2 separate regions of the Homo sapiens genome follow, and region 1 is linked to region 2. Evidence: fine-mapped expression QTL. A gene starts in region 2. The other region holds a variant in brackets. All regions are shown on one strand. Distances are from middle to middle.

Region 1 (9,991 bases), 27 kb after region 2:
CAACGTTGTGCCTACAGTGAACAATACAGTATTGTGCACTGAACAGTTTGTTTAGAGGGTAGTTCTTATGTTAAATGTCCTTATCACAATAAAACATAAATAATAAAATTAAATGTTGGTTGAGATGGCAATGAGAGAATGATATTCAAAGTTAATTGTGGGAAGACTAGTGTCAGAGCACATTAGGAGTGTGTAGTTTCGAGACTGCGGCTCTGGGTAGAGGGCAGCTGAGGTTGCTGGCAAGTATTCTGGCAAATGACTCAGCTTGGCCAGGCTTACACACAGAGTGACCGGGATTGGCACAGAGGCCTGGGGTGGTCTCGCAGAGACAGAGGCCTGGAATAGGTCAGAGGCACTGAATCAAGGGCCCAAGGGGTGCCAACCAGCACTACTAGCAAGGTGCGTGCAGAGGACTCTGTTGATTAGGGCCCCAGGTTGGCAGCAGGAGAGAAGCCATGTCACCTGCAGACCTAGGGAAACCGAGGGAGGTTGGGGACATGGGATGAAGGCTGTTGTAGAAATTCTGGTATGGGATATAGGGCTAGTGATGTCTAAGCAGTGGTGAGAAAAGCAAGACCCTTTGTCAGCCCTGGCAAGTGGACGCTGCTGCTGTTGGAAGGCACCGGGAGAAGGGTGAGGCTGAGACACAGCTAGGACAGAGAGTGCCCACTTCTCCTCTGGTGGGTGTGGGACCCTGCCGGGCCTGGTGGCCATAGGACCTGGTGGCGCAGGACCCCCTCCCAGGTGCAGTGTGGGCAGAGAGGTCCCCTGCTTGGCATGAGCAGACAGGCTGTGCGTCCCTGGAACCACTTCTTCACCGCGGTGTGGACGTGCCTGCCGGCCAGCAGCTGGCTTCCTGTGGGACACCTGACTCAGCCACTGTGTTCTGCGCTGTGCCCCTGGCCAGGCATGAGCTGAGCACATCTCAGGCTCCCTCCCACAGGGCCTGGTCACACGCCCCAGGGCACGTAGTGGCTGATGGTCCTTCCTGAGGGGATGGGGCCACTCAGGAGGAGGGATGTGCAAGGCCTGAGTGTTCAGAGCATCCCATCCCTAGGGGGCACAGGGAAGGTAGGCAGCTGCTCTGGGGGAAGGGCTGATGTGTGGACCCCCACAGGAAGAAGGGACTCTGATCATCGAGGGGCTCCTCAACATTGCCTGGGGGCTGAGGCGGCCCATCCGGCTGCAGATGCAGGATGACCGGGAGCAGGTGCACCTCCCCTCCACCTCATGGATGCCCAGACGGCCTAGCTGCCCTCTGTGAGTACCCGGTGGCTTCTGTGACACCTGCTCAGCCTGAGCTCCCGGGTTGGGGATATCCCGAGCCTCAGGGTGGGAGCCCTGTTCCCTTATGGGACACTGGCACAGGAGGGTGACCCAGCCTCATCCCCATGCCCTGTGACTGCCTCAGTCCACAGCCTCGCCCAGGGTGGCCTCTCCCTCCTTCCTGGAGAACATTCCAGGCTCCCATGACCTCTATTTCTGTTTCTCAAACCTTCCTGCAAGCCACCTTGCTGGCAAGAAGGGACGACTACAGCCAGGGGGGCTCCCAACACCTATGCAAGCCGAACATGTCTCGCCATCTCTTGTTCTATCTTTAAAATTCACACGAATTTAGCCTCTTACTACTCTGTTTTCATTTTAATGTCAAAATTTTAAAAATAAATTTATCAGAATTTCACATTACATTTGTTTAATATCAGAATAATGTTTCTGTCAGGAGGAAATGGTCTCCTGCCTGCCTTACCATTCAATGCACATTTATCTCCTCCTCGGCCCACTCCCAAAAGACGCAGTTAGTAGCTGGGCCTTGCCTGCTTCTGCAGTAGTAACTCCTGTAGAGGGCACACATTCAGAGCTTTGCCCCCTTCAGATTTCATATGAAACCCATGCTGTGACAGCACCCACCACCCTGACAGCCCCAGCACATACCTAGGTGTCCCCAGTCACTCAGCGAATTCTGAGGCACACAGAATTAGAGCATAAAGTCAGACTCCTTAGGAAGGCTGCAAGTGTGACTCACATGTGCCCCTCTTCGAGGTAAAGCACTCACAGACAGCAGTCGCGGCTGTGCCCGTGTATTCTCCAGGATCCCATCTGTCTTCTCTTCCCCAGGTCCCCTGGGCTACAGGGCTGTGCCCCATCATACCCACTCCTTCTCCAGCCCAGCACTAGCTACCCTGGCCTGGGGCTCATCCTGCCAAGAGGCCTGGAGGTTGGGCCCTTCTAGGTGGCCCCTGCCTGACACCCCACTAGGCCTTCGGGAAGCCCAGCGAGCCTGTTTGGCACACAGCTGCTGGCCTGGCTAAGCCTGGTGTCTAGGAATGCGCAGGCCCTGACTATGTTCATGTGTCCGTGTGTCTGTGCGATGCAGCCCAGCACAAGCCCTCAGGTCTGCAGGGCCAGGCTCACTCTCCGTCCAGCAGATGCTGGGGGGAGGCCTCTACTTTTCTTTTATTGTTTCAGACTGACTCTCTTGGTTTGAAATCCAGGCCTCACCTCAGCCTGCCTTGCTTCCCGCCTGTGTCCTACCCCAGGGGCTGCTGGTCTCTTCTCCTTGGCCTGAGCTCCCTTTCTCTGCCGGCAGCCATCTCAGCCCTGCAGTTGTCTGTTTTCAGAAAGGAGCCATCGCCCCAGAACGGGAACATCACAGCCCAGGGGCCAAGCATTCAGCCAGTGCACAAGGCTGAGAGTTCCACAGACAGCTCGGGTAAGCGGAGCCCGCAAGCTGCCCAGACCCCTGCCTCATCCGGGGTAGGAGCAGAGGGGCTTGGCTCACAACCACAATCTCCGAAGGACAGCTTTGTGCCCCAGCCAACGAGGGGCTTCACCTGCTGGACCCCTACCCAGGTGCCTGCCTGTGAGGTGCTCTGCCCTCATTCTCGCTCCTTTTTATGGAAAAGTGAGCAGAGGCTTGGGAGGTGACAGTGACAGTGTGGGGGTGGCCTGAGTCCCCCGCCCTGTGTGTGCTATGGGAAACAGGAGCATCCACAGAAGGCACTGCGCTCTCCTGGCCCCTCACCTCCCTCTGCGACCTCGTCCTCACCCTCTGTACCTGCTCACTCATCCTTTTTATTCCCCTTCCTTTAGCCCTCAGTGAAGGGCCTGTTTCAGAGCAGGGGCTCAGAAGACAGGGCTGGGGCCACCAAAGACCTCCATGGGCACCCTAAGACAGAGACCAAGAGGGGTATGGCCATGTGACATTGTGACCCAGGTTACCCTGTCTGGGTCTCACCTTCCTATCTGCAAGCTGGGAATATCCAGCCTCCAGTCCAGGAATGGCCCTCACGTCCCCATCTGCCCCAGTGCACGTGACCACAGGGCTCTAGGGTGCCAGATCTCCCGACAGCAGGCAGTTGCTCTGTCAGCATCACCCACCCTGCCATTCTCTCACCCATTTCTCATGCAGGGCCCCTGGAGGAGGCAGAGGAGGCCCCCCAGCTGATGCGGACCAAGAGCGACGCCAGTTGCATGAGCCAGAGGAGGCCCAAGTGCCGCGCCCCCGGTGAGGCCCAGCGCATCCGGCGACACCGGTTCTCTATCAACGGCCACTTCTACAATCATAAGGTGATGCCCCAGCCTGGCCTCTCCCCTGGGCGCATGGGGAGCCAGGCCTGAGCACAGGCACAGCAAGCACCATGACCTGTGTGGGGGCTGCTGGCATTCCTGTGCCCTCAGGAGGAAAAACCAGGTTGCATCCACATAACAGCCCCGTTTATGACCTAAGCATTTTCCAGCACATGCTCACTGTCAGTGCATCCTCACAAGTCACACAGAATTCTGGCAAGTAAGCTGGGGATGCCCTGGGCAGACAGTAACGCTGACCGTGTCTTCAATGAGGGCGCTTTCTAGGAGGCTTCCCCCCGAACTCGATTGGTTGATCCCTGGGAACACTGTGTATCCAGCCATCACTCTCACCGAATAATTAAGCAGGGGTGTGCCCAGGGCACATGTGTCTGTGCCCCAGAGAACCTGGACGACCCCAGATTCCCAGCACACAGCCTTTTGTCCAAGGATGCATTGTACTGACCTCAGGAAAAGCTTTCTTTCCCCAAATTACATCATTCTATAAACAAACTGAACTGTAGCAGGAGAAGTTGATTGTTACTGTAAATAGAATGATTGGCTGTCTGGGCAAGGCCCTGGATGGAGCGTCTTGTGACAGGCCATATCTTTCCCTCAGCACTGGGAAATGCAAGCCGAGATTTCCAGTTGAAGCAGCTGCCCTTCTTGATAGAGGATGACTTATGGCAGGGAGGGGGCTCAGGAGGAGGGTCTCAGGGTCCGATCTGAAGGAGCAGGTGTCCCAGGTTAGGCTATCCAGGGGCCATTCAAGCCACACTTAGGGTGCCCTGGACTTTGGAATGTCTACTTTGGAATTCTGCTGGGCAAGCTGAAGGGACCCTGCTTTAATCTCAGGATCTCCCTTCCACCCCCTGCTAGGCTTGTGGTGAGTGAATGAATGACAATAGGGTTGCCTTTGCTAAATCTGGAAAAATCCAGGACTATTCCAAAGTAGAGTCTCCTGAGAGAGTAAAGGGGACCCAGGATTGAAGTTAGGCAGAGATTAACAAAGGTGTAGATTAGCCCAAGGACACAT[G/A]ACATGACTTGAGTATTCTTTAAATCTTGTTCCAAAAGGGGTTTAGTGTGTAATGTGTTGGGTACCCATTGTTAGCATTCAAATAAATGTTGATATGCTAGTGTAAGGAATTATTCAAAAATTTTCCAAAATATGTGCGTGGGTTTAGGTATTTTCCAGTTCTATGTTCCTTACCAAAAAAAGGGTGGGGGCAGGGATGTTTTGCTCCATGATTCAAAGTACTGAATGGTGGAGTTTAGCATTGGTACATTCGCTTCTCCTCGAAGGGTCTCATTCATCACTAAGAGGTGTGTCTGGTACATTAAACCTTATTGTAGTGATTGCCAGTGTCATAGGAACACTGAGCTCTCTGCATGTCCTGAGCACTCTGCAGCCTTTGAAATGAACAGTGAGGGTTTTCATCGCAGCCTCTCATTTCCAACTGAACCACACTATCAAGAAGAGCTACTCAGCCAGACAACATGGGGTCTCAGCCTGTCACCCAGTGAGGGCAGCTTTTCCTCCTAGTGACAGATTTGCCCTTGCAATGTGAATCCATTCTTCCAGAAAAAAGTACTGCTTTCAAGGACACAGAATAGTGTCTTAAGCATTTGGGACAGTAGCTCCCCCACCTCCTGGGTAAGGGAAGTCCCAAAGAAAAGCACTATGCAAAAAGCCCTTTCTTACCACGCTCAACATCCATACAGAACTAATGTCCTTAGAAATGAGGGGACAGATTCCTTGAGTCAGAGGCAACAATTGAAAAAATAAATAATTCCTAGCATTGAATTTCTGAGATAGTTCCAGGTTTTGTTTCTTAGAACTGTGCACCATTACTTCACTCAGTCATTTTCCAAAACTGTTCTGATTCCCAGAAATGTTGGTTTTATTTCCAGACAGGGTGAAACTTTGTAGCTGTTTCTACTGCCTGACCTATTGGATTCAAATGCGTTCTGTTAGAGAGAAACCATTTGTGGTTAGAGATAAGAAAGTAGCCAGGGGGCCTTTGTTCCTACTTGGAGTTGGTTGGTATCATCTTGAGAAAAGGCTTCGTGCAGAAGAAACACAGTGTCTTGTTAACAAGACTTTTTGTCCCTTTGAAATAGCCTAACTCCTCTGTTTCATGTTTCTTTTTTTATTTGAGATGGAGTCTCACTCTGTAGCCAGGCTGGAGTGCAGTGGCACGATCTGGGCTCACTGCAACCTCCACCTCCTAGGTTCAAGCGATTCTTCTGCTTCCTGAGTAGCTGGGACTACAGGTGCGCACCACGATGCCTGGCTAATTTTTGTATTTTTTGTAGAGACAGGGTTTCACCATATTGGCCAGACTGGTCTTGAACTCCTGACCTCGTGATCCGCCCGCCTTTGCCTACCAAAGTGCTGGGATTACAGGCGTAAGCCACTGCACCTGGCCCTCTCTTCCATATTTCTTTGGACAAGAAAGCCTAATCCTAATCCTGGCTTTCTGTATAACTCAGTCATTCTGCACCTCAACTAGAATCGAGCTGGGGGAAGCAGGTCGAGGTTGAGTCTGACTCTGGCACAGCGTGCTTCATTTTATTGTGCTTCTTGTTACTGTACCTTGCAGATTTTTGCAAATGGAAGGTTGCTGTTCAGCAACCTTCCATTTGCAAAAATGTGCACTTTTTTTTTTTTTTTTGCTGCACCTGCGGTTTCTGCAAATTGAAGGTGTGTGGCAACCTTGTGTTGAACAAGTCTATCGGTGCCGTTTTCCAACACTATGTGCTCACTTTGTGTCTCTGTGTCAGATTTTTTAGCAATAAAGTAGTTTTAATTAAGGCATGCATATTTTTTAGATGTAGTACTGTCTCACCCTTAAGAAACTACAGTATAGTATAAACATATCTTGTATATGCCCTGGGAAACCAAAACATTTGTGTGACTCACTTTATTGAGATATTCGCTTCATTGTGATGGTCTGGACCTGAACTCACAATGGCTCCCAGGTGTGCCTGGACTTATCAGAGCGGGGATACTGAATAGGTCCTTGAGCTCTCTGAGCCTTAGCTACCTCCTTGGGAAAACAGAGCTAGGATCTCAGAGGAGGAATATGCGAATCTAAACTTGAGTTTGAAAAGCAAGGAGAGGTTCACCTGCAGAGGAGTCACATTCGCTGGGAGGCACCAGCACCAGGGGGGTAACATGTAGGTTTTCAGGAATCATGGAATCCTTTGAGTCAGGGCTCTGTCTTTTCTAGGTGGGTAACTCTGAACAAGCTGGTTAACCTCCTAAAGCCTCTGATTCCTTTCTAAGAAAAGGGGACTAGTTATAGCTGCCTCAAAGGGTTGTTATGAATATTAAATCAATGATTGTATGTAAAATCTTAGCGGGTTCAATACACAGCTAGGGTTTATTGAGGACGGACCTATTATGTGTCAGGCAGAGTCCTGGTTGATTTCATATATGGTGTCTCTTAGGCAAAGGCAAGATACCTGCAAAAATATAATGTGTCCCCCCACCCCCCAGCCAAATTGTGAAGAAGCTCTGTGACTGGAGCACATGGTGCTTGTTAGGCAACCATAGTGTCATACGTGCGAGACAATGAGAAGAACTACAGATGTTATTGCACAGTCCCCAGGAAGCCTTCAGATACTTTTAGACCCGCGCTTTCAAACAGTGCTTCTCACATTGAACTGCACAGATCGCTTCGCCTTGTGTTCTACAGACGCAGACTCTGATTCAGATGGTATGGAGCAGGGTAGGGAAGGGAGCCGAGACTGTATGGATGCAGCTGGGCTAGACGTCACTTGGAGGTGCAAGGGTTTTAGAAGTCCGTTCCTGTAGGCAGCGGTGCAGACTACGGATTAGAGGGACTGAGACCAGAAGGGAACAAGCTGGGAAGCTGATATGGTGTGATCAGTGCCTCTACTAGGCACTGCTGGGAGAATGAAGAGGAGGAGACAGATTGGGTAACTTTCAGCCTTAGAATCAACAGACAACTGGTGACTTAATCAATAGAAAGAGTGATGGAGAGACTGATTCCCCCACCCTTGTGAATGACTTCCATGGCCCTGGTTCCTCGGGTCCAGAGAGCTGGCCCTTCTGGGTGTGTAGACATCTTCCTTAGGCCTCTGGAAGGAGTGCACTACTACAGCTTCCCGGAGTGTCTCCCAGGTCTGGGAACAGCTTATGTGTGCATCAGCGTGAATGGACAGGTGCAGGTGTTCCCAGATCTCAGCGTCACCTGCTGCCTTGGTCTGTTCACCGTTGTGATGTCAGTCCCTTGTCCCCTCTGGGCCTGACCTGAACTTCTCTCCCTTCCTGGTACAGACCTCCGTGTTTACTCCAGCCTATGGATCCGTGACCAATGTGAGGGTCAACAGCACCATGACAACCCTGCAGGTGCTCACCCTGCTGCTGAACAAATTTAGGGTAAGCCTGGTCAGGAGCAGCCTTGCCCCAGGATGCCAGTGGTCTGCTATTCTGTTGGGGGTGGGGTTCTGGGGAAAGCTGCCCGTGGCAGAAGCTGCCTGGGCAGAAGGTCTAGCAAGGGTCCCTCTGCTGAGCTTTGGTTTCTCGGATTTCAAGCAAGAGGAGGTTGGGAGAGGACAGGTTCCTTGCAACTTGCGTGTGTGTTACTGGGGGTGTAGTTACTGTCAGGGGACCCTCTCAGTTCTCTCCCATCTCCAAGCACCGTGATCTGACTTCCTGTGACTGCCTGTGCAGGTGGAAGATGGCCCCAGTGAGTTCGCACTCTACATCGTTCACGAGTCTGGGGGTAAGTACCTGCCCCACTTCTGGATCGTAAAAGCAAAAGGTCTCTACCTGTTCAGCAAGCCCCCTCCCCACCAACCACTGACTGTACTCCCTTCCAGATGGGCTCCGTGCTGGCTTGCCTAGTGGGCTAGGGCACACTGTGCCTCCCAGCATGAACATTTCTCCCCCACCCAAACCCAGGCACACTATGGAAGCCTTGAGGAAAAGAAAACATACTTTTGGCTTCGAATTTAAAGCACATTAAAATGTCCTTGGATTTTCTAGGTCGCTCAGTACATTAAGTTTAATTCTTTCAGGATTCTGAAGGAGAATCCCACCAAGCTATAGGAAGCCTCCCTCTCCGCCTCTTCCAGAGAAATGGATGGGTGGGTACCTAGCTCCTTGGCGCCGAGTCAGGAAGGGTGGGGTGCGTGTCGCAGTGCATCAGGCCCTGGCCCTCCCGTCTCAGCTTTCCTTTCTCCCACCCCTCAGATCTTGTTTCTCTTCAAGCTGCACCTTTGCTGAATGACACTGTAGGGGAGGAAAATTATCTTCTCTTTCTACCCATTTAGGTTCACTGGCTGGGGCCCTGTATTTAGATTAACAAAAGACAGATTAAGGAGAAGAACAAACAGAAGTTTGTTAACACTTGCATCATGCATGCCCTTTGGAATATCCAGGGATGAATGGTCAGAATTTGGGCTTAAATAGCATATTCACAAAAGAGCAGTAAGTTTTTAGAGAAGTGACAAGACAGAGGAGAAGGGCCTGAGTTTCTGGGGAGGCGAAGGGTGGGAAGGTCACCGCACGGGGAGCTGCGGGAAGGGAAGGGCTTCAGCGGGACGTGCTGTGCAGGTTCCTCTGGTGCCCTCTCCAGGCTGAGGAGGGGCTCGGGTTGTCTCTGGTGATTAACTCCATCATTGCCTAGAGAGGGACGGGGGCACACCTTGACAAATTTATGTCCTGCTTTTTGGCAAATAGGGGAGGGCAAAGAGCCTCACTTGTATCTTCTTCTTCTCAATTGCCAGCCGCTCCACTTAATCCTTATGCCAAAGTGGCAGATCTGGGGGCCCTGTTCTGCCTCCCTTCTGCATGAGCAGGAATCTCTCAGGGCAGCGCTGTTAGCGAGGTCTGTGTTCTTAGGGTTCCCTGCGCCCCTAGACGCACATTTTCTATCAGTTCCTAATCTGGAACAGACAGAGGTGATCCTAATCTCCCGTGATTTTTGTAAACCACCTTCTTTTTCAGAGCGGACAAAATTAAAAGACTGCGAGTACCCGCTGATTTCCAGAATCCTGCATGGGCCATGTGAGAAGATCGCCAGGATCTTCCTGATGGAAGCTGACTTGGGCGTGGAAGTCCCCCATGAAGTGAGTGGGGGCCAAGGCTGGGGAGGCCTGCTCTAGGGTGAGGGGTTCTTGGGTGACGGGGCCTCCCAAGGACTCCTGGCCAGAGCCCTGTCAGTTGATGTCTCCAGGAGCTCCACACTCTCCCAAAGGGCTCCCAGCCTAGCACAGGGAGGCGCCAGCCCTCCCTCTCCCATCAGTGACCGCCAGCACCAGCAGCTTAGGGGAAAGAAGAATTTGGGTCCTATAAAACCATGGCCTGTCCTTTTCCTCTAGGGAAGTAAAGTCTTTTCCTTCATTGGAATGTATTTTGTTGTCATTATGTGAGAGACCTATGCAAAGGCTTTTT
Region 2 (9,471 bases):
GAGAGAGAAAGAAAGGAAGGAAGGAAAGAAGGGGGAGGAAGGGAGAGAGAGAGGAGAAAGAAAGAAAAAGAAAGAAAGAGAAAAAGAAAGAAAAAGAAAGAAAGAAAGAAAGAAAGAGAAAGAAAAAGAAGAAAGAGAAATAAAAGTCATTTGTTTTTAATTTAATGTTGGATACAATGAAGGGGGAAAAAATCACATGAAGCCATCCATAAAAGGCCTTAAGGAATCAATCAGATCTATCAGAAATTAATTCAAAATCCCACTTACTGTCTTAAGAGAATGGCTTGAAAATGGTTCTCATTATTAATATCATTTACATCAAGATATATAAACCTATTTTTCAGGACTCAAAAATCTAAATGACATCTCAACAACATGTGATTGTACCCAGGCATTTCCCCCTGGGAGCACCAAAGGGAAGAAGGTAATTTTTCGGTCTTTTGGAAGCTGTGCCCTGGTGCCAAGATGCCTCAAGCCAAAACCACACAGAGCAGCCTGCCTGACAGATGGGCCCAGTAGCCTTTATCAAGCTCTTAGGCTCTTATGAGCTTCCCTACTTGCGAATTAAACATAAATTTATCCTTTGCGGCTCTTTCATAAAAACACTGGCTCATGAGTGTTTCCATTTGTCTTTTTACGGATCTTACAAGTCAGTCCAAACTGTTTGCAGAATAACAGCATTTCCTAAGTCTTTCTGAGGTAGGAAGGCCAAAAAGAATGCAATTGCCCAAGACGAACAGGACACCCTGCTCACTTAATGGACTCCCAAAGGCCTCCTTTACTGGGGCGGCGCCCTGGAGCAAGGAGTCTTGCAGGAACTTCTGTGTGGCCTTGGCTCCCCTGAGACCCAGTGTGTTCCATTAGAGGTAGATGTTGTTTTTCCCTCACTCCCGGGTGGTACAGACACCACCACATTGGGCCATCAGGCACAAACCTGGACTCTGCCACTATCTGCACATGTCATTTGGAGGGGGAACTCAGCCTCCCTGAGTTTGTTTTCTTACCTGAATCTGGCAAAAAGAAAAAAAAAAAATCAATCATACATCAGATATTGATTAAACACTGTGACAATCCAGACAGAATCAGTTTTTAAGGAAACATAGTGTCTCTTCCTCTAGGAGCTCATGATAAAGACTGGAATATACAGCATGCCAGAGTGGTATGCGTGGGTCAGGGACGGGCATTTTACAGAGGGCCCAGGGACGACCTGAAAAAGGAGGTGATTTGTGATTAAAGACCTGAAGCAGGGGAAGGAGGGAGCGCTGTGGACATCTGGGGAAAGAGCCCTCCAAGGGAAGGAATGACCCTGACAGGAACAGGCTGGGTGTGTGGGAGAAACAGTGTGATCAGAGCAGGGAGAAGGAGAGGCAGTAGGAGGAGATGAGGTCAGAGAGACAATTAGGGGACAAGATCATCTAGGGAAGGGGTTGGCACACTATAGCCCTGCCATCCATTTTTTAAAATAGTTTTATGAGAACCACAACCATGTCCTTTGGTTTACATATTGTCTATGGCTACTTTCAAACTACCCCAGTAGTGGTGAGTAGTTGTGACACGGACCATTTAGCCCACAAAGCCTAAAATATTTACTATCCAGCCCTGTACAGAAAAGGTTTACCAACCTCTGCCTTGAAGAAATAGGGGCTAATTTTTCTCCATGGTAGGGAGTCTGGAGTAGGCAGTGCAGGGTTGGTGCAGAAGCTCCATGATGTTAAGAAGGATCCAGACACCTTTGATCTTTATGCTCTGCCAGCCTCAGCATGCGGACATGTTGCTTTATGATCTCAACATGGCTGCCAGTGCTCCAGACATTACACATCATGTCCTCATTTGAGACAGGCAGGCAGGAGAGACATCTGTTCTTTCTACCAGAAAAGCAAAAGTTATCTTCACCATCCCTCAGATCTCTCCTCCCCCAGGACACCTTCCCCCATCTCTGCGTCCAGAAGTAGGTCGTATGGCCACTTCTAGCTTCACTGAAAAAAAGCTATGAAAAGGATTGTCAAGACTTAGACAGCTGTTTTGTTTTTTTTAACTGTAACCCACAGTAAGAAGCACACATAACTGAAACATAAACAATGCAAACAAAAAGTTCCACAAAACACAACTTATATTTACTATTTGTGCTGTACACTGGTATTTTCCCTTGCATTTTTGAAGTACTAGTCACATCATCAACTAAATTAATTTCATGACCCACTATTGGGTTGTAAGTAGAGTATGAAAAATACAAGTGGGCATGAGCCATAACTAGGGGCTGGCATGTTGCTGCTACAGACAAGTGGGTATTTCTCTCTCCTTTCCTTCCCTCCCTCCCTCTCTCTTTCCTCTCTTCCCCATTCCCTCTTTCCTCCCTCCCTCCTTCCTTCCCTCCTTTCCTTCCTTCCTTCCCTCCTTTCCTTCTTTCCTTCCTTCCTTCCGTCCTTCCTTCCTTCCTCCCTCCCTCTTTCCCTTTCTTCCTTCCTTCCTTCCTTTTTGTCCTTTTCCTTCTTTCCTATCTTTCTTTTTTCCAAAGAAGGAAATGGACATTGGCTGGCAACCAACAGTATCTGTAGCCTCCACCATAAGTGAGCTGGAGACCACACCCAGTTCTACTGAACCCTGAAAGAAAAGGTGACCCCTCCTTCTGAGGGGTCTGACAATGGACCCTCCCCTTCTGAGGGGAGGACGCTGACAATGGACACCTGTGTCTGATGTAAAATGCAAGCACTCACAGCCATAAAAGAGAATAAAATCGTGTCCTTTGCAGCAGGATGGATGTGGCTGGATGCCATTATCCTAAGCGAACTAATGCAGAAATAGAAAAGCAAACACCACATGTTCTCGCTTACAAGCAAAAGAGCTAAATATCGGGTTCACCTAGACATAAAGATAAAAACAATAGACACTGGGGACTTCAAAAGTGGGAGGGAGACAGCGGGGCGAGGGGTGAAAAACTTCCTATTGGGTACTATGCTCACCATCTGGGTGACAGGATCAATCCCAAACCTCAGTACCACACAATGTACAATTGTAACAAACCCGCACGTGTATCCCCTAAATTTAAAATAAAAATGGAAATTTTAAAAAATGCAAGCAGTAACACCAACTGCCCAGGAGTGCTGGGGGAATTGCATGGGATCCCCAATGTAAAGCACTAGCATAGTGTCTGAGCCCACAATGGGTGCACAGGACACATGGGGTTGCTGTCCCAAACCCAGTCCTCACTCAGAGCCAGTCATGGCCCTGTGAACAGCATTAATTAGGTCAGAGAGAATGATTCACACTCGAGTTCTGGAGAGCCCAGGGAAACTGTTATGTCACCCTGGTGCTATGTTTACTTCTCCTATCAGGAGTGATTAAATTCTTAGGATCTCATGCTCAGAGGTTGACAGTTATATTGAATTTTACCCACTTTTAAAAAACCTTTGGAAGCACCCGATTATTTGTCTCAGCTTTGATGAGGGCTGTGGAAGAGCAAATGTGTCATGACAAGTCACCAACCACAGGGAGCCTCAGAGCTGTCAAAGGATGGGCCATTCTCCAAAAATTCAAGCAAACGCAGAAACGGGAGGGCCCCTGGACTGGGTATCTTCAGTCCTGTCACTTTTTGCAGGTGGGGGTTCCAACATAAGTCATACAGCAGCCATACAAGCATTAGCACAGCCCCTCTAAGTCGAAGTTCAGGGACCCATGAGACTCAAATCCCAGGCTGATTTTGGTGCATATGGCCACCTGCACTTTCTAGAAGATCCATATCAGATTCTAAAATGGCCATGAGACCCTAAAAATATTAGGAAACGCACACTGAATGAAACTAAAATGATTTATGTTAGGGGTGGGAGAGAACAGGTCCAGAGGTCAGAGCTGGGAATCGTGAGGTAAAGCAGAAATTGCAAATGTTTTCCATCAACCCCATCCCCCACCTTGACACCCCCACACCCCAGAAACACTGAACTGTTCCCAGTTCCCCAAATGGCTTGTGGTTTTCTGTCCTCTCTGCCTCCGTGCTGGCAAATATTCGTCCAGGAGGCAGTGACTGGGAGAGAAAGACTAACTTCTTATTCACCAGATCGGATTTCTTAAACAATAAGGAGTTCTAAGAGGCCATGCCAAGCAAACGGCCAGACTGTACAAAGGTGCCCCTTGAGCAATAAATAGCAAATGCTCTGGGCTTTACTGATAAGCCTCCCCAGACTCCAAGCCCCACCAGGCATGCAGACAAGTGCCTGCAGTGATTGCAGCGCCTGCGCAGCGGCCCTTGTTGGAAGTCCAGGAGTCCGCGCTACCCCGCAAAGTCCCTGGCCGCTGCCCGCACACCGAACCTCTCGGGGCTGAGTCGGGCTGCTTTCTCCTCGCGTCCCGGGGCGCCCTCGGGAACTCGGGAGCGCGCGGCGAGCTGAACAATGGCCTGGGGACACCTGGCAGGTCGCAGGCCCCAAATCTTCCCCGCCGCCCCTAGGCCACCGCCCTGCACCCGGAACCTACCGGCGTTCCCAGAGCGGGGCGGACGGGGCGGTGCCATTGGCCGGTGCGGAGTGAGGGGCGTGCTCGGGGCGGGACGGAGAGACCGGGGCGGCACCTTTGGCCGTGCCGGGCGAGAGGCGGGGAGCGGGGCGGGGCGAGGGGCGAGGGGCGGGGCGAGGGGCGGGCCTGGCCCCGAGCAGCTGAAGCCTGGGGTCAGCAGGCGCTGCGGGCGCAGCTCCGGTGCAAGCGAGGACACGACACATGCAGTGGCTTCTGGACTGCGCGATGACTGGACGGTGAGTGATGAACGAGCAGGAGAGTGCTTGGGCGTCCATGGAGCATCCCCTCCGACCCAGGACTGCCACCAGGCAGGGACGCTGAAGCCTGGGCACTTGTGCCCTTCGGCCGCAGCGCGCAGGGTCCCTCCCCCGCCAGCCTGGCGCATTGCGGGCCTCGGGCTCATTGCTGAGAGGGGGCACTGCGCCTGGCACCTCTGTTAAGCAATTTAGGGGCTACAACCTGAGCAAGACAGATGAGCCCGGCCACTGGCTACACCTTTTTTGTTCACCTTGTCCTTAACCAGTTTCCTAGAAGCACTGATCCTAGAGTTGGGGAGAGAGCCTAGAGGCCTCTGGCACAACTCTGATTTCACTGATGGAAATCGAACGCCAAGATAATAGCAGCAGGGGGGGTCTGTCTCACAATCGCTGTCTGTAGAGGGCTCGCCTTGCTCTGGGCCAAGTGCTTTAACACGATATGCCTCTTACTCCTCACAGCAAGTGAGAGTCCTACTTTCGTTATCCCCTTTTCAGATGTGAAAACTGAGGCTTAAAGAGTTATAAAATTGTCCACCTTTACCGGATGAGTTGGTGATGGAGCCAGGATTTGAACCCAGGGCTTGTTGTGCCCCTGAGTCTCTTGCTCTTCACCCTTAGTCTCCGAAGGTCAGCCTGCCTGCTGCCCTGCTCTTCTGGGCTCCTGACTCCGGTCCCATCCTGCACTTCCCACTTCCAAAACATGCCTCAGTGTTTTCATTAACCTGGCACGGCGGAGGGAGGGAGGCCTCCTCTCACACCAGAATCAGTGCCCAGGCCAGGGCCAGCACTTTCTTAAAACACAGTAAGGACAGCTTCAGGAGCCCCATTTCACATAGGAATTAAATAAGGTCGCACAGCAAATAAGGGCTGGGCTTCTGGAATTTGAACCCAAGCAGGTTAGACTCCAAAGCTATGCTTTGCACTCACAGAGGAGCCCCTCGCTGGCTTTGCTGTAGTTTAACTGCCCACAGTACTAAGGTGTCAATCAGGATTTGTTGCCAGAAACCATTTTTTTTTAAGTTAGAAGTGAATTGGTGAAGTAACAGGTAAATGTAGACCATCCTGCCTTCTGTTCCTCTGTGTGGTTCCTTAGCTACTTCTGCCAGGACAGCAGGTTAGGGGAGAAGACAGGAAGGGAGAGGGTCAGAGGAGAAAGAGGAAGGGAGGGAAGAGGAGAGATGAAACTCATTAAACTTAGGTTAAAAAAATGCTGGCCGGAAATTGTCATGGGCTGTTTCAGCACTTTGTCAGTGTATGTGAAGGCTGTTGTCATTAGTTCTAGCCATAATTCTCTCAGTGTGTAGTGCTGGTGATTTGACAACAAAAAGGTTGATGCTACAGATTAAAGTGTCTGTCTGAAACTCAGGAGATTGGGTTGTATTTCCACCATGAAGCTCCAGTGGGTAGCCTGGAGGTCGAGAACAGAATCAAGGTCCAGGGTCGCCCTGGGTCAGGACCAAGTGGACCATGACAGATAACAAAGAACATGAACGAAACTTGGGTGTGTGTCAGAGTTCAGATTCTGGACGTGCAAAGCCTCAAAGGGGAGACCTAACTAGGGGATCTGCCAGAAAGCCCTCTGCCCTGGGCCCCTGGGGTCTGGGGCCTGGTTTCAGGTGTCAGCTCAGACTCTCTCCTCATTCATGGCCACTCCTGCAGGCAGGCCTCACATTCCCATCTCTGGGGCTCCACAGTCTCTCCAGAGCCCCCAACTCCCAGTGTCAATAAGAATAGTAATGGGAGCCTCTTTTCATTATGGGTGAGCCCAACACAAGGCCCATCTTACAGGTCTCCTCATTCGTCTTCACAGAAGTCATCGAGGATTATAGTTATTTAATTGATGAGGAGCCCAAGGTTCAGAGAGGGAACTGGACTTGCTTAAGGTAACAGAGCCAGGCAGTCACAGAGCAGAGCTTTAAACCCAGAGCCTTGCAAAGGCTAGGTGGTTATTCTCTCACAGAGTATGTTTGGGGAAATTGTTTTAAAATAAAGAAAATCAAATAAGAAGTGGCTGCACTTCCTAAAGCTTCAACAGTTTTCTTATTTTTGTAAAAGAGAAACTTGTAGTTCCCGGGGTCTCCTTTTCTGGCTGTCCCACCTTCTGCCCTAGGATATACTGTTGAGGAAGAGGCCCGGAACCCCCTCCCTTTGCCCTGCCTGACCTTGGGAAGCAGGGGTGGGGTGTCATTGAGCCCCATAGCTGCAGTGCTGGGAAGAGCCCTGAAGACTCTCTATCAGCTGCCACAACAGCTCTGGCTAAACTGATGCCCAAGAGACGGCGCAACACGCTAGGATCACAGGCCAAGTTAATGCCACAGCAAAACTCACATGCAAGGCTCTACAACGTTCCTCTGCCTCCTCTTTCTTGCTGTGACAGGTTTCAGCAGAGATTCTAAACCTAAGATCTGGGGATCTGGGAGTACATGGACAAGAGCTGTCTCATCTCCCTGCAGTGATATGCAAATTGTGTGTGTGTTTGCACGTGGATGCAGATTGCAACAACATGCACATACATGCATTTTCTGGGGAGAGTGCACTAAGCTTTCAAGAGACTCCAAAGGACTCTATGACCCAAAAGATTCTGGGACCCTTTTGTCTCACAGGGCCCTTATGTCCCCAGCAGTGACATGTGGCACACAGGCCTGGGGCAGTGGACAGCACAGGTGAGGGCAGCCGTAGAGAGCCTCCAGAGCAGCCCTGCAGCAGCAGGCACCCAGAGGGGTCTGCCCCTCTGCATTGCACTCCCAGCCCCAGGCAATCGGGATATTGGACAGTGCCCATTTTGAGCACGTTTGGCCCGAAAACCATAGCTAAGAAGATCTTTGTTTCTGTGGATCTTCTCTTCCATAGGCTAGAGGTGAGCCTGGTTGGTGGGGAAGTTGAGGAGTGGTTCAGGGGGTTCCAGGAGCAGAGAATGTATGTTTAAGGTGTAAGGGGGGAGCAGGAGGACTGGAAATGGTTTTCTTGTCCCAAATTGCTTTGCCTTGAAACAAGGGCAGAAGCCAGAAGTCTTGCCCACTGGGAAGGCTGGTCTGCGATCTACATGGCTGCTCAGGGCCAGGCTCTCAGAGGAAGGGGAGCTGTATCAGGGAGGCCTGGATGCTGGACTGGACTCAGAGAGACCTGTCAGTGAGAGGCCAGAACCGCAGCGGGGAGTAAAGGTGAGCTGGGCCTGTGTGGTCAGTCCAGGGCAAGGCGGGAGTGGAGGTGGAGGGGAGCTCTGTGCCCGCCTCTCCTGGACTCCCCTGGTCTCCATCACCTCCACCTGGACAGTGCAGAGTCTTCTGGGGCAGGGAGGAGTGAGTTGAGCCAGAGGGATGATGGCGGGAGTGGAGAGGAGGGGTCTGGTGATTGGAACTGGGCAGCAGGAGGGGACAGCAGTGTGGAAGGAGGTGGGAGCAGCAGCTGCTGAGTCGCCGCCTGCCATCTACAACCAGACAGCCGGCTCTCACCACAAAAATGCTTGGCTGAGGGTACCCCCTCAGAGGCACCTGGTTTCGGCAGACGCTGCAACTTCTTCACTGGCCAGGCTCCTGCCATTTGCTGGCGAACAGGTGCTGGGAGGGGCCTTTTAAAGCTTCATTGTCCTCTGTGCCCTGCTGCCGTTGTGGCTGGCAATTCGAATGTGGTAGCCACAGACTGCAGTCAGGAACTTAGTCCCCCCAGGAATGCCGTCAGCGTGGCCTGCACCTGCTCTGTGGCCTGCACTTGCTGTCCTCCACCAGCGGGAGCAGCTCAGGCTCCCAGCTGTGCCCCACACACTTGTCCTCCTTTCTTTTGCTTCCCAGGTCACTTTCGTTATGACCTATTTGATTTAAATCACGCTGAAATAAGAAAATAAAAATCACAATTTCAGGAAATGTGAAAACAGAGGTAACCAAGCTCTCAGACTTCACAGATATGCTTAGAACATTTTAATTTGGATGCCTGTACGTTTTCCCTTTTGCCAAGTGAGGACACCACATCTGTGTTGGCCATGTTTTATGTAAGAAGGGACACTGTCAGAAGGAAAAGCAGGCAGCACAGTCTTAAAATAAAAGGCTTTCAAGTGGACTCAATTTCGTGTCACGAAAGCCTCACTTCACTCGGCATCTTCTGTTCCTTTTGCCACTGGCCTGTAGGAATTGGGCCCCGGGGGTGACTGAAAGAATCACAGTCACCTTCTTCTGTAATAACTTTCCCCACAAACACAAAAAAGGAAAGACGGCCCATGCCTAGCAGCTCTAAAGCCCTCGGCGGCCTTTGTCCCTCAGTAGTGACAGCAGACTGTCTCTCTCTGCACGGCTGGCAGAGCAGCTGCTGAAGTGGAAAGGGAGAACAACTCACTGCTTGTTCACTGGGACAGGTAGCCATGGCTGGCATGCCGCCTAGGGGGCCTCCTCTGGGGTACAGACAGCCCTGGCTGCAGCTGATCACTCTGGTTGGGGACAGAGTGTCCTCCAGCCTGGGAAACAGGCGTGGAGGCCTGAGCTATGTCCTGGGACCTGGGGGAGGGGAACGGGCCCAGACAAAGAAAGCTGTACTTTCCCAGCAGAATGGCACGGCTTGGAGGAGGGGAGAGCCTGCTGGCCGACTTGGCCTGTCCAGCTGCATCTGTCACTCTGTGGTTTTTTGAGCCTGAGCCTGGGTGGCAGGCCAGCCCCAGCCCATCCTCTCCTGACTCCTGCTGCCACCCATGCAGCCTCGCTTTAATCCATTTGTGTATTGG

Evidence for each region.
Region 1: its variant is fine-mapped to the expression of RASSF4 in whole blood (TOPMed, PIP 0.97).

The regions. Positions count from the first base shown.
Region 1 is chr10:44,981,404-44,991,394 of GRCh38, forward strand. RASSF4 (Ras association domain family member 4) reads left to right here. Exons shown (of 11, transcript NM_032023.4): 4 at 1,118-1,260; 5 at 2,619-2,710; 6 at 3,410-3,567; 7 at 7,871-7,972; 8 at 8,267-8,318; 9 at 9,545-9,666. Among named protein-coding and RNA genes, the nearest start is that of DEPP1, 7.6 kb to the left of the region's middle. RefSeq lists enhancers at 2,499-2,999, 9,599-9,991. The variant G/A (reference allele first, on the strand shown) is at 4,601.
Region 2 is chr10:44,955,125-44,964,595 of GRCh38, forward strand. RASSF4 (Ras association domain family member 4) reads left to right here and starts at 4,678. Exons shown (of 11, transcript NM_032023.4): 1 at 4,678-4,742. It overlaps TMEM72-AS1 (TMEM72 antisense RNA 1), which reads right to left and starts at 4,565. Exons shown (of 8, transcript NR_033842.1): 1 at 4,468-4,565. RefSeq lists enhancers at 4,357-4,651, 9,136-9,215, 9,226-9,285, 9,406-9,471 and a silencer at 4,429-4,648.